Regions from separate parts of the Homo sapiens genome. Here regions 2 and 3 are each reported to be linked to region 1. The links are microRNA targets in miRTarBase. Many come from high-throughput screens and were not tested one by one. Region 1 holds a microRNA gene; each other region holds the end of a gene's coding sequence.

What was found. Region 1 holds the annotated microRNA hsa-miR-873-5p (GCAGGAACUUGUGAGUCUCCU, at 2,780-2,800, opposite strand). A microRNA usually pairs through its seed, bases 2 to 8, with sites in the 3' UTR of a target mRNA and lowers its output. Matches are read on the target gene's strand: a 7mer-m8 pairs with bases 2 to 8, a 7mer-A1 pairs with bases 2 to 7 and ends in A, and an 8mer does both.
Region 2: miRTarBase lists FTSJ3 as a target of hsa-miR-873-5p. Seed matches in the 3' UTR shown: 7mer-A1 at 3,162-3,168.
Region 3: the mRNA of CTTNBP2NL is a reported target of hsa-miR-873-5p. The part of its 3' UTR that is shown has no 7-base or 8-base seed match.

Annotation. Positions count from the first base shown.
Region 1 is chr9:28,886,146-28,890,865 of GRCh38, forward strand. MIR873 (microRNA 873) reads right to left here and starts at 2,810; the gene lies at 2,734-2,810. All of the region lies in intron 2 of LINGO2 (leucine rich repeat and Ig domain containing 2), which reads right to left.
Region 2 is chr17:63,816,292-63,820,530 of GRCh38, forward strand. It overlaps FTSJ3 (FtsJ RNA 2'-O-methyltransferase 3), which reads right to left. Exons shown (of 21, transcript NM_017647.4): 19 at 3,964-4,147; 20 at 3,788-3,882; 21 at 3,142-3,703. The coding sequence ends at 3,511. DDX42 (DEAD-box helicase 42) reads left to right here. Exons shown (of 18, transcript NM_203499.3): 17 at 577-675; 18 at 1,403-3,026. The coding sequence ends at 2,107. Among named protein-coding and RNA genes, the nearest start is that of PSMC5, 9.0 kb to the right of the region's middle. RefSeq lists an enhancer at 3,534-4,239.
Region 3 is chr1:112,457,194-112,461,432 of GRCh38, reverse strand. It overlaps CTTNBP2NL (CTTNBP2 N-terminal like), which reads right to left. Exons shown (of 6, transcript NM_018704.3): 6 at 269-4,239. The coding sequence ends at 4,021. Among named protein-coding and RNA genes, the nearest start is that of MIR4256, 2.5 kb to the left of the region's middle.

The DNA.
Region 1 (4,720 bases):
GTTTGCTTTCAGTGTACTGACATGCCTTTACTCAAACTCAGAAATGAAATATACAGTGAGAAGGGGAAGAAAATTAATTGCAGAGAAGATAAAACATTGATATATTTGAAAGACATTATTGGCTAACATAATTAGGATAGAAAATGGAGGCTCAAAAAATTGGATCTAAGCTAAAATGGTACTATGAAAAAAATTTTTAAAACAAGCTTTTATGGAAGGTCTAAAATGGTATATTCCTTCTAGAAAGAGTAATTTGAAGAGCCAATTAAGTCATACTAGGCAGTAATCTTTCAGTTAATGGTATTTAATTAAAATGACAGGGCTACTCCTTGGATTTGAGGGTAATGACAAATGAAACTTTAATTAGAGTCTTACCTTCCAGGAAAGAGTATGGGCCACTGGATTTTTGCACAAAATATACCACAGTTACTCACATAATTTCTTTTGTTGCTTATTTCTTTTCTTCCAATTTTAAGTAATATATGTACTGCTTGTTTGTTTTTGATTTCCCGCTTTTACAGGTGAAAGTCTGTTTTTCTCTCTATGTAATTTCCCATAATTTATTCTAATGAGGCTAGCTAGTGTCATCTACAGAATCCTAGAATGAATTCAATACTAAACTAAAACTTTGCTTTTATGAGATAACATGCAATTGTGAGACACATTTAGGAGTTTCCACTTAGGCAACTTGAGATAAACTGAATATAATACATTCAAACAGAACATTAAATGAGAGAGAAATAATATAGAAATAGTAGTTAGAGCTTCGTCAAGTTAATATTAGAGATGCAGGCTTTTAAACTGAAGTGGATCTAACATATTTTAGATATTTAAGAAATGTTCCCCAGTGGGTTGACCACATTTCATTGCTTAAGGTAATGCAGAGCAGGGTATGAACAAGAAAGCCTAATGTATGATTTCCAACGAGTGAGGCAGGACCTTGTACATATAATGCTGTGTCCATTATAATAATGATGAACAAAGAGCTATACAAACACGCTTGTCAGTTTCTAACCCCAGACTCTGGCAGAACAGTTGAAAATAGATGCTCAATAGAGATGTCTGCTGAGTTGATGCTGACATATAAGTTCCATGTTATTGATCTACATGTGGGAAAAAAATTGAAAGGATTTTTTTTTCTCTAGTTATTGAAAGTCAAGGGTCAGATGAGCTCCTTGAATGAGGCCTATTGTTCTAACTTGCCCCTGGTCTTAAAAAAACTGTTGGCATTAGGATGAACTATACATTCCAGAAAAGTGATTCTCAACTCTCTCCTGATTGTACCTGATGACATGTTGCAGAAGCCAGTAATTTGTTACTAATATTAAAGAGTAATGTTAGTGGATGATTTGCTTTTATTAAAAAAAAAGAAGGGCATGTTCAGGGTGACATATATGCCACCTTATTGCATTCTAGTAAGATAAGCTTTTCAGAGGAGACATCACAACAAGCTACTGGAAATAAAATACAGCCAACACATTGTTTTATCTCAGCCACATCCAGCAGTGTGATCACACAGACACAAGGATCATGGGTTTAGATGTGGGGCAAAAAGACAAACAAAAAGGCTGAGAACTGTAATCCTAGATTGTGAAAGAGAAACAGAAAGGTCTACTGACCAGTGATTGACGATACTTCTGTCTGAAAACATGCTTTCAATCGATTTAATATTTTTCCATATTTATGCCAGGATAATTAAAATCAATTGAAGAAATCCTACAGAAATAAGCTCCAACTGGATTTAATTTGCAAAAAATTTAAAGGCTGCACATTGTTTTAGAAAAAAGACAGGTCAAAATGAAGGTAAGATTTGTATTACCAGCTTACATGTAAGAACTTCATTGAATGTTTTGAAGATAACATTTTGAGGAATGTAGAAAAACACTGAGAGGAACTTTATCACTAATTATTATAGAATATTTAACACAAATATAACCTTTAGATATGATTCATTTTTCTAAGTGAATTTGAAAGTATTTAGGTATGACTATGAGTAGAGTCTCTGCTACTCACTAATGTAGGATACACATCATCAACTTCATACATTTACTATATTCCTCCTTCAGTAATTGAATTTGTCACTCTTGTTAAAAGAAGACCATAAACAGATTATAAAGGATCAACCTTATGTGGTTTCATGAAAGGCTGCTTTATGAGATTTAACAACAGATTCATGCTATCAATGCTGATGCTAAATGTGGTCCATTGAACAATCCTGAAATATAAAAAGACTAATTACATAAGTTGATGTTACACATGAACATGAACAGAGAAAATATTTTCTCAGAAAAAAATTAGATAACAATCTCAACATTTATATACTTAAACTCCTGATTAGATACAACCAAGAAAAAAAGTTTAAGGGAATACATATGATTTTTAATTTTTTCCTTTCCTGCAAGGTCTATAAATTATCTTTCACATAAGCACTGGCACCATTCATTTCATTGAATAATTTATGTCTTGTAGAATGTCTGCTGAGTTTACAAAGATAAGATCAGGACTATTAGAGATGCTTCCCTTGGTGGGATTCAACACCTCAAGTAAACCTACTGACATCCATGTTGAGTGGACAAGTTAACCCTTGCCTAACTGAATTATTTTGCATTTTCAACATTACTTCCTTGTTTAGAACTTAAACTTATACTCAGAACTTGGAGGAACTGACAACAGTGGAAGGTACCAGCCATAAAATGTTGTCCATTGCAAAGCAGTAGAAATGAGTAGGAAGATTTGTGGGTGTTCCCGGGAACTCATCAGTCTCCTGTTCATTTTCAATAGGAGACTCACAAGTTCCTGCAAATGCACACAAACTTATTCTAAGCAGGAACCATTTGCAGATAAGCAGCTGTTCATATTTCCTCCATTTCAAGTGAATACAGTAATCTGTTCCCCTGGAGTATCTTCAGCAGCTTGCCTGGTGCTTGTGATTCTTTTCAAACAGTTTTGTGGGCATCCCAGACACTGGTCACCTTCATTTATGTATTCAATAAATATTGATTGAGCATCCCTTAAGCAGGTCACTGTTCTTGTTTTAAAGATAGAGTGATAAATAATTTCTTGCCTTTAGGGCAATTCTATCAAACATTAGTCCAGTTCACTTTCAATAATGCCTGAGTCAAAGTATCAGTCTCCAATGCCAAATGAGAGGCAGTGGTATTTAAATTTGTACTTCCTGGTGCAATGGGAAGAATCTAGCAAAGGGAACTACGAGATCAGAATTCTAGCCCTACTGCAGCTAAGACATAGCAGTATTTCCATGTCACACCATTTAACATGTTTTTTGCTTCAGTTTTTTTTTTAATTTTAAAAATTATTATTTGGGCTATTTTACTTTTCATTCTGGATATAAATGTGTGATGATGATATAATAACTGGAAACAAAGAATGGAAGTGTTTATACATAAATATAATGTTATTGAAGTTGTCTTTTTCTATTAAAAAACCTTTGTTTCAGCAATTACTGTAAATTTTAAATGTATTATTAATAACTGGAATCTTTTCTACCAGCCAACACATAAATTATTTTTCTCATATAAAAACAAATGGTTAATTTGCCCATTTAATGGCTCCTAACATTGAAACTTATTTTTATCAGCTTTAATGTCTCCATTAGATCTCAGACTCTAGCTCTAACGTTCTAAGAAGACAGGCTCAGTTCTTGACCAGGAAGGTGGTAATCATCAAGGTAAATATTTTTCCAAGACCAGGTGTTAGTCTTTGCAGTTTTTCTGAAATTTTAAGCTCTAGAAAATTTTGCCTATGTTAGTTTGTTCAAATGAAAAAAATAAATATTCCACTATCTCTTCTCCCCATAAAAAGCATGTGTATAGGCAATTATGCCTGTTCACACACAGGGTCTCTGTCCATAAAGGTTCCCAGCTGGTAAAATTTCATGCACTCATGCTTGGTACAGAATAGCATATAGATCCATTTATTTTACTACCATATGCCCTTGTAAGAGGCAGTATGTAAATACTTTATTGAAGAGGTTTAATTTTTAAGTCCTATCTAGGAATTGGCAGAAATTAACTACAGGTTTTCTTGGTTTTTTGTTTTGTTTTGTTTTGTTTTGTTTTGTTTTTGTGGGGCAAAAGAAGGGGTTTTGATCTCAGTAGACTTTCCTGTCCCTGGAGCTTGGATTTCTGTTTCTGTCTCACTGTTAAAGGACTGAGACCATATCTCCATATAATTAGGTTGTGCAGGTAAGCAGTTACTGTCTTTTCCTAAATGGGTACACACTTGTGTACCAGGGGCAGCACTGCCATGGAGACCTGATCAAAGGGGCCTGCCTGGTATTTAATGAGGTGGAAGAAGAATGCCACAATGAATACAGCCTCAACTACTCTGAATTATGAGGTTTATGTGGTTGAGTGTAGAAGTTTCTCCAAATGGACCCAGAGTCAGTTACTTGTATGGCAGAGGAGTTTGGAGGACAATGGGACATTCTCTCTTTAATCTCTACTAGGGCTGGGGAAGGAAGTAGACCCCACTGAATAACCTCCTCATTATGTGGCTATATTAAAATTGTTGAATATCTATTTATGTAAATCATATGCTATAAAGGTTATTTGCTGTTAAAGTCTCCAATTAAAATTCCAATTGACAGTCAAGAATCCTTGAAATAGCCTAATCAAATAAGAGTAGATCACCACTTTATCCAAGGAATAAGCATCCTCTAGGCAGAGGCACCATCCTGTTTTTCTTTTTTCCACACCTA
Region 2 (4,239 bases), not on the chromosome of region 1:
TACTCTGTTCCCACATTATAATAATAATGATGATGATGCATAATAATAGGTAATATTTATTGAGCACTTTATATGTGCCAGGACCATTCCAAGCAATCAGATGTTTTGGCTCAGTTAATCTTCAAAATAACTGAATGGAAGTTAGTACAGATAACAATGCTGAGGCACCTAAGGTTACAGTGACAAGTGTTCAAGCCGAAATTCAGACCCTTCATGGTCTTGATTCAGGGCCTGAGCAGTCACACAATATGCTATTCAGGGCCTTTTCATCTTTAACGTAATTTTTACTTAATTAATTGGAAGTGTTTATGTAAATACATGATCAACTTTGGGCATAATCTGATTGCATTTCTGTTTAATAGGGTTAATTTCCAGAAATAGAATTTCTGGGTTGAGGGCATAAGCATTTTTAAATGATTGTCACTGTGTCTTTTCTCACAAAGCAGTAGCAGCTTTCTAAAAGTATCCAGTTCCTTTGTAGCTCCCACTTCAAGGGTTTTCATAATGAGGCCTAGTCTATAGCAGTGAGCTTTCCTGCTTATTTTTTCATTCTCATAGATGTGTTTATTTTTTTAGGATCGAGGAAATAACAATGTAATGAGCAATTATGAGGCCTACAAGCCTTCCACAGGAGCTATGGGAGATCGACTAACGGCAATGAAAGCAGCTTTCCAGGTCTGAAATAAGCATTTCATTAAAAGCACTTTCAGCAGTAACTCTTGGGCAGTGACAGAGGGGCTTAGTTTTCCTGGTTGTAGCTGGGCGCCTAGGCTTGATGCTAGATTTAGGGTCTTCACGCTGCTTGGATTTTGAATATAAACCTAACAGTAGCTTAGTTGGAAATGCAAGTTGATCTAGAGAACCCCTTGTGCTGGTCTACTTTGAGTCACACTTGGGGCCTGGGATTGTTGTCCTGCAGCAGGGTGTGTGTTCCCTCCCTTCCCAACAGCCTGAAGTGTTGCCCACCTCCCAGGCACCCACCTCCAACTCACTTCTGAAGCAAAATTTACTGATAGTCACACTAAGGTGAATCGATAGAATGAGTTCAAGGCAGGTTTTGCTGTCAAACTTAAATTGCAGTATGAAAATTTTTTTTAAGTTTTCAGAACTTTTTGGTTTTGAATGCAGATAAATGTGCTAAATACATAGATGCTTTATTCTAGCCAATCAGGCTATAAAAGTACATTTCAGAACACTGGGGGTCCATCTCTCCACAGAGATCCACAAGTTTTCCTTTATAGCACAAGAACAAAAGGGACCATACTGTGGGGCCATCAGGACACTAAACTCACAGTGCCAGGATAGCACAGAGTTTCTGTAAACCTCATCATTTGCCAAGTTGTATATTCAAGTTTCTTGAACTTGCTATCTTACCTACTCCTGATGTCTCTTTCTCTTTCAGTCACAGTACAAGAGTCACTTTGTTGCAGCCAGTTTAAGTAATCAGAAGGCTGGAAGTTCTGCTGCTGGGGCAAGTGGGTGGACTAGTGCAGGGAGCTTGAATTCTGTTCCAACTAACTCAGCACAACAGGGCCATAACAGTCCTGACAGCCCCGTCACCAGTGCCGCCAAGGGCATCCCAGGCTTTGGCAATACTGGCAACATCAGTGGTGCCCCTGTGACCTACCCGTCTGCCGGAGCCCAAGGAGTCAACAACACAGCTTCAGGGAATAACAGCCGAGAAGGGACTGGGGGCAGCAACGGGAAAAGAGAGAGATATACTGAGAACCGGGGCAGCAGCCGTCACAGTCACGGAGAGACTGGCAATCGGCATAGCGATAGTCCACGTCACGGAGATGGTGGTCGCCATGGAGATGGATACCGCCATCCAGAAAGCAGCAGCCGTCATACTGATGGCCATCGGCACGGGGAGAACAGACATGGAGGAAGCGCAGGCCGGCATGGGGAGAACCGGGGTGCAAATGATGGTCGGAATGGGGAAAGCAGGAAAGAAGCTTTTAATCGTGAGAGCAAGATGGAGCCCAAGATGGAACCCAAAGTGGACAGCAGCAAGATGGACAAGGTGGACAGCAAGACAGATAAGACAGCTGACGGCTTTGCTGTCCCAGAGCCGCCTAAACGCAAGAAAAGTCGATGGGACAGTTAGAGGGGATGTGCTAAAGCGTGAAATCAGTTGTCCTTAATTTTTAGAAAGATTTTGGTAACTAGGTGTCTCAGGGCTGGGTTGGGGTCCAAAGTGTAAGGACCCCCTGCCCTTAGTGGAGAGCTGGAGCTTGGAGACATTACCCCTTCATCAGAAGGAATTTTCGGATGTTTTCTTGGGAAGCTGTTTTGGTCCTTGGAAGCAGTGAGAGCTGGGAAGCTTCTTTTGGCTCTAGGTGAGTTGTCATGTGGGTAAGTTGAGGTTATCTTGGGATAAAGGGTCTTCTAGGGCACAAAACTCACTCTAGGTTTATATTGTATGTAGCTTATATTTTTTACTAAGGTGTCACCTTATAAGCATCTATAAATTGACTTCTTTTTCTTAGTTGTATGGCCAGGCAGTCCCCATTTTAGGAGTTGGCTTCTGCAAATTCAATCCATTGAGCTAACTGTTGGGGAGCAATTTGGTAGTTGTAGACATTTGCAGGGAAGGGAGATGTCTGATTCTAAATGGGAGTTGATGCTCAGGTCCCCAGCCAGGTTTGCATCCAGCCCTGAGACATGTAGGAAACACCTTTCAGACCCAGGCTCTGAAGATTCCCAGAAGCCACAAGGATTGAAGGGAAAAGGTGATCCTGGTAACTGTTCCAGGATTGCTCCAGGTTTGAGATGGTATTGCTAAATTTAAAATTAAACAAGAAACCCAACAACAGCTTTTAAAGTGTCTTCTATCTCATTGTATTTTTTTTAACTTGCCCCAATGATAGAAAAGTCTTTTGCTGAAATGATTTTGATGATTTTTGTTTATCGTTTATAAAAAGGAAAAGAAATATACAAACTTTGACTTTTGTGACTTTGTGAAGGTTTCTTTAAGATGTGCATTCCTTTCTGCTTGCTCTCTAGTAAATGTTTTACTACCGGGACCTGTGGATCGTTTGTCATTTCTGTCTATGAATTGGTACATATTAAGAATAGTGCCGCACACAGTGTAGGGACAGATAGGGAAGTGCTTATTAAAACTGTCAGAAAAGACAACTCTTCCATTATCCTGGTTTTATTCAGGAATAGGATGGGGGTGGGGAGGGCTTAAGTGGCCCACACGTCCAGGTGTAGACTGACTACATTGAGTATCGCTCCAACACCGAACTTCCCTTTAACGGTTTAAAAAAAGGGTCATGAGTGTCAACACAGTTCAGCAGTGTTTTCATGGGAGACCTTCAGGCAGGCAGGAGGACATCCTCCTCTCTGCTCAGGACCACCACGGGAGTTCTAGGCACTCCACCTCACTGTTCTTCAGACAGCTGTGATGTGAGCAGGGGCTAGGCCGGTAATCAAGGGGGCCAGACTGAGCCATGCCACACCCTTCCTCCTAGTCCCCATGCTCTCCTGGGAGCCTGGCAGCTCTGCTTACTTCCGTTTGTGTTTTTTCTTTTGTTCCTTACGTTGCTGTGCTCTTTGGTCCTTCTTCATCCTTGAGTCCACCACCTTGAAATGACCTCTGACTCCAGCTGGCCGGCGCACTTTGCGGCCCACACCTTTTTTGGCTACAACGTAGGTGACATGGCGTTTCTCCTTGCCAAGCCCAGCCTTCTTGTAGAGACTACAGGGGGGAAGAGAAGAGGTTAGAGGCTTGCTTTCTGCTGCACTTTTAGCCCTGTGTACCTTTGTGGTGTCCTCCCATTACCTTCGCAGCTGTGCCACTTTCTCTCGTTCTGAGATGTCCACTGTGTTCACCACGGCTTCTGCCTTCTTCCTGGTCTGCTCCAGCCTCTTCAGCATCTGCAAAGGAACCTGTCAGGTGACCTCTTCCCCATCCCCCCACCCCCACCCCACCCAATCTCTGGAGGCCCCATCACTTACCCTCCTTTTCTTTCTAGCCTTAGCCTCAGCCACCTTCTTGATGGGACGTGCATTGATTTCCCGCCAGCGTTTCCGGTAATGCTCCACCTCCTTCTTACCAACAGGCAACTGTCGTATCCGGTGCTGCTTTTCCTCTTGCACAAACCACTCCGGAAGCTCCCCCTCATCCTCATTAAATGTGTACCTGAGTGGAAAGGACATCTGTCTAATATCCAACATTCCAGGCTTTCTAAAGAAATTACCAGACTGGGCACGGTGGCTCACGCCTGTAATCCC
Region 3 (4,239 bases), not on the chromosome of region 1:
CATGGTGCTTGGTACTCAAGTAGGCACTCTTGACTCTGAATATCACTGACATTCTGCCAAACCAGTTTCAGGAGCTTAAGACATTTCCTTAGGTCAGAGGCAAATAGCAAGTTGTTGTGAAAGAACAGGTAAGGGCTATGAAGGACTGTTTCTCAAAACAGACTAGCTGCATCAGCTAGTCTGAGGATCTAATCTCCAGAAATCTTTATTTTAGCAGGCTTCCCAGGTTATACTTACGCACAGTAAAGTTTGAGAACCACTACTCCAGTCTCCTTTCCCCTCCTTTATTTTTACTAATGAATTGGCCACTGATACACAAATGGTGGGTGGACAGGCTCTCATTTCTCAACTAGTTTTATAGAAATTAAATTAAAAATTATTCCTGTGGAACAATGCTCATTGCCCACTTCTGATTCATTAGGAAAACACATCCTATTTTGAAGCCAGTGTTTTGAAAGACAGTTGAAGTTCCATTTCAAGGACTAAGCATCAGAAGCACTCCTTATGAATTCACACACACACACACATACACACACACACACACAAATTGACAAGGCAGCACTGCTGACAGGCTATTAAGGGAAACCGGATATGCTAGTATTTGTTGAAATGATCATTAATTTGCTTAAATGCTGAAAACTTCAGATATGTAAACATCCACACTATTTGAACATTTTTTAGACATCAAAGGATTTTCAAGTGCTTCTCTCTGGCTTGCATTTGCTAACATTGCAGCAGCAACAGCGCTGGAGTAGTTGAAAAGGGATGCATTAATCATTTGTAAAATGAGAGAGCAGAACAAGATTATGCTTTCTTAAGCAGAAATACATGAGCCATGGATGGCTTCAGGGTCTTTGGATCCTATGAAGCCATCAAACAAATTTTGCATATAGGCATATTCATTTTTCTAGGGATAAACTCCATGGCTTTTCTAAGATTCTCAAAAAGGTCCAGAACCACCAAAAGGTTTAAAAAATCACAGACTGGATTATTGTAAAGGCTTTTTCCAGCTCTAAGACTCTAAAGAAAATCAATGTCTTAGTTCCTTATGGAGTCTAACCTGGATGGGTCATTGACTTCATTTGTTTTGTCAAAGCCACAGTCAAGTGCTCCCTCTACACCACCCCCTCTTCCCAACAAAATATGCCCAAATTGTGCCATTTTTCACTTTGTACAAACAAGACTATTTCCCCCCAAACAGCAAGATTTAACTTGTTTTAATGCAGTCTGCTATAAAAATGAAGACTTCTGCATGGTATATTTGGCTTTACAAACGTTAATGCCTAGTTAATGCTTGTGTTATATGGTACACATCATTACAATCTGTTGGCCAGTAACAGCTTTTGCAACATGGGTTAATACTAAAATTGTGAATCATGGAACTTTTACTTAGCACACACACACACAATCTACAGCAAACTTAAATACTAATCTATAATACCTAACTGGGTTATTGGATCCATTGCAAGATTGTGCTTATTTATCTCAGAAGGTAGGCAACTAGCAAAAATACACATTTCTTTCGCATATCCCCACCCCCATATTACACTGTAAAAGAAATACATTATTCAGTGCACTTCCTAAGAAATAAACTTCCTTATAGTATCTCTCTCTATATATATCTATCCCAAAACAAAGGAAGAGCACAATGCAACTTTTAAGATTACCATTTAAAGCAAAAGAGACAATAACTCTCTGGCACTGTAGCCTCCTCTCCAGTTTAGAAAGTTTAGCTATTTTATCAACACTATTCGTTTTGGCTCTGCATAGGAATAAAGTTCAATGCATGATTGCCTTGGACAGTTTAAGATACCCCCTACATCATTTTGATAGACACCTTGGGGCATTAGTAGCATTTTTATTTTTCATGTATTTGCCTTTATCAAACTATAAGCTGTGGAGTTGCCAATATACTCCATTGTGATTTATACACTGATTTCCATCACCTGCCTTTTTACTATCAACTCTTATTAGATTAAAAGGAAATAGACTTAAATTATAGCAGGAGGTCAGGGCTGCTGGATAGATGTTGGCTCAGAGAATGTATGTGAAGACACCAAGGCCTCTCCTGTATGGACACAAAATCATATAACCACTGTGTCTGAGCTGGGTTGTGGATAGTCTTATTTGGCAGAGGGGGATAGCCATTATATTCTATGAACCTTGCCAGCTGTACTGGCCTACACAGTTGGAAAGTTTGGAGGCTTTTGTCCGCATAGACTTGCTATGATGAAAATGACAGAAGTTTCTAGAATGAAAGAGGTTGCAACTTGGCAGCTTGCAAGCTAAATCCAGCTGCAGACGTGTTTGTTTAACCAGCACCATTTAAACATTTTAAAATCACTTCTTGATATTTAAAAATGAGAATGTTTCTCATGAAAATTTGGATTTCAAAAAATGTGAAGAACTGGTAATCCTGGTTTAGCATTCTTGCACCGCAGCAAGCAGATGGAGCTGAACAGATGCCCTTTTTAAATGCGGCTTGGGCACTTTAGTTTGCCACAGCTCCCACTGCTCCCAGCTGTTTTACATCGCTTGTGTGAGAGGCCTGTTTCACTCATTTATATGACCAGTTGAGTTTTGTGACACTGGGGTTAGTTTAGCTCTGCCTATTTATTTTTTTAATAGAGATGGGGTCTCACTATGTTGATGAGGCTGGTCTTGAACACCTGGTCTCAAGAGATCCTCCCATCTCAGCCTCCCAAAGTGATAAGATTACAGGCATGAGCCACTGTGCCTGGCCAGCTCTGCCTTTTTATGATACTGAAGATCTAGGCTTCATTTGGAATTTCCTCACCTTCCTGTGGACAAAATTCCTCCTTTGATTGTGTCCCAGCCACATCTAGTTGCTTCGGTAGGTAATCTTAATGTGCAGTTCTACTTGTCCTTTATGCTATATTGCAAACTCCAAAGATATAATCACACTAGTATTTATGTGTTTAAGTGTGTGTATGTTAAACATGTAAAGGGGTAATGTATCTATACAGATATATGTATACTTCCCATTTAAGCAAAAGTTAATTTGGTTTTACAGATACAGATACCAGGTTCTGGCAGCTTGGAGAATAAGTGTAACAATTTGGTAAAACTTGTATAATTCTGACTGACCTATAATATTACAGAGTGAATTTCAAGTTATTGCTTTTTGATTACAGAATAAAAAATTCATTCTCTTGCAAAACTTTTATACAGAATGAGTAACCATTTCCTATTCAAGTAACAGCAATCAGAATCAGAAGTTCCTTACACAACAGTAGATGCTTGAGACATTTTTTGAATGGAGATGTGATTTCATTCTGTTCAAGAACTTATGCAGGAAACTGGGAGTGACTTAATTTTTCAAAAGTACAAGAAAATCAGCACCCCAACTGCTTAGTGCTCAGGAGGGTTTCTCAAGGGCTCTATAAAGCTCAGCTTGTGGTGAGTTCACACCCACCTTTAGAAGGATTCCCATTCTACTTATGCAGCCTTGTTTCAGAACACAAAGCTTGTATTAAAACATTAAAAGAGGATTAAAAGCAGTGTTGGTTTTTAACATTCAGAATTCACAGAGGATCTCATTTTCTGTAATTAAATGATCTATTTTGTGTTTTTTGCTGCAGAATCACATTCATATGGCAGTCATATTTCAGGCACTTTTAAAACATGTTCATCTGGAATAAAAATCTGCATGAACCACTTCTGCATAATTCAAAATGAGTGTTGAGTGATTCTAGTTCTCAAATAGATAGCAAATCACCACCTGGTGATTCGCTTTCTTCATCACAACATGACGGTGACTGCTGAGCTTGAGACATCTTTGAGGTGCCTTTCTGGCTTCAGTAAAAAGATGTGAGCCATAAAAATCCAAACTACTCAGTTTCTACTTAAAAAAATACAAAATGGTGAAATATACTAAATGTATTATACAGATGGTTTCAGCTACTATCAAAATAAATAACATAATCTGACTCAGAAGTCTGACTGAGCTTTTGGACGAAATCTGATGGAATGTCAAACGTGGAGACTCCCTCCTAGGGACTAGCTGCTGGTAGGCAAAAGTAACTCAACATCCTTACCATTTGCTACAACAGTATTGGAAGAGCAGCTGCTGGCAAGGTCTTCTGCAGTGGTCAAAGAGGCTGCCTGGGAATGAGTTTTGGTCAATGGAGTGGTAGCAGATGGAGAAGGGGTGAGGCCAGGTTTCTTGGGTGGGATGGGTGGAGGGTTTCCTCTCTCAGCTCTGGGGATGGTTGGGGA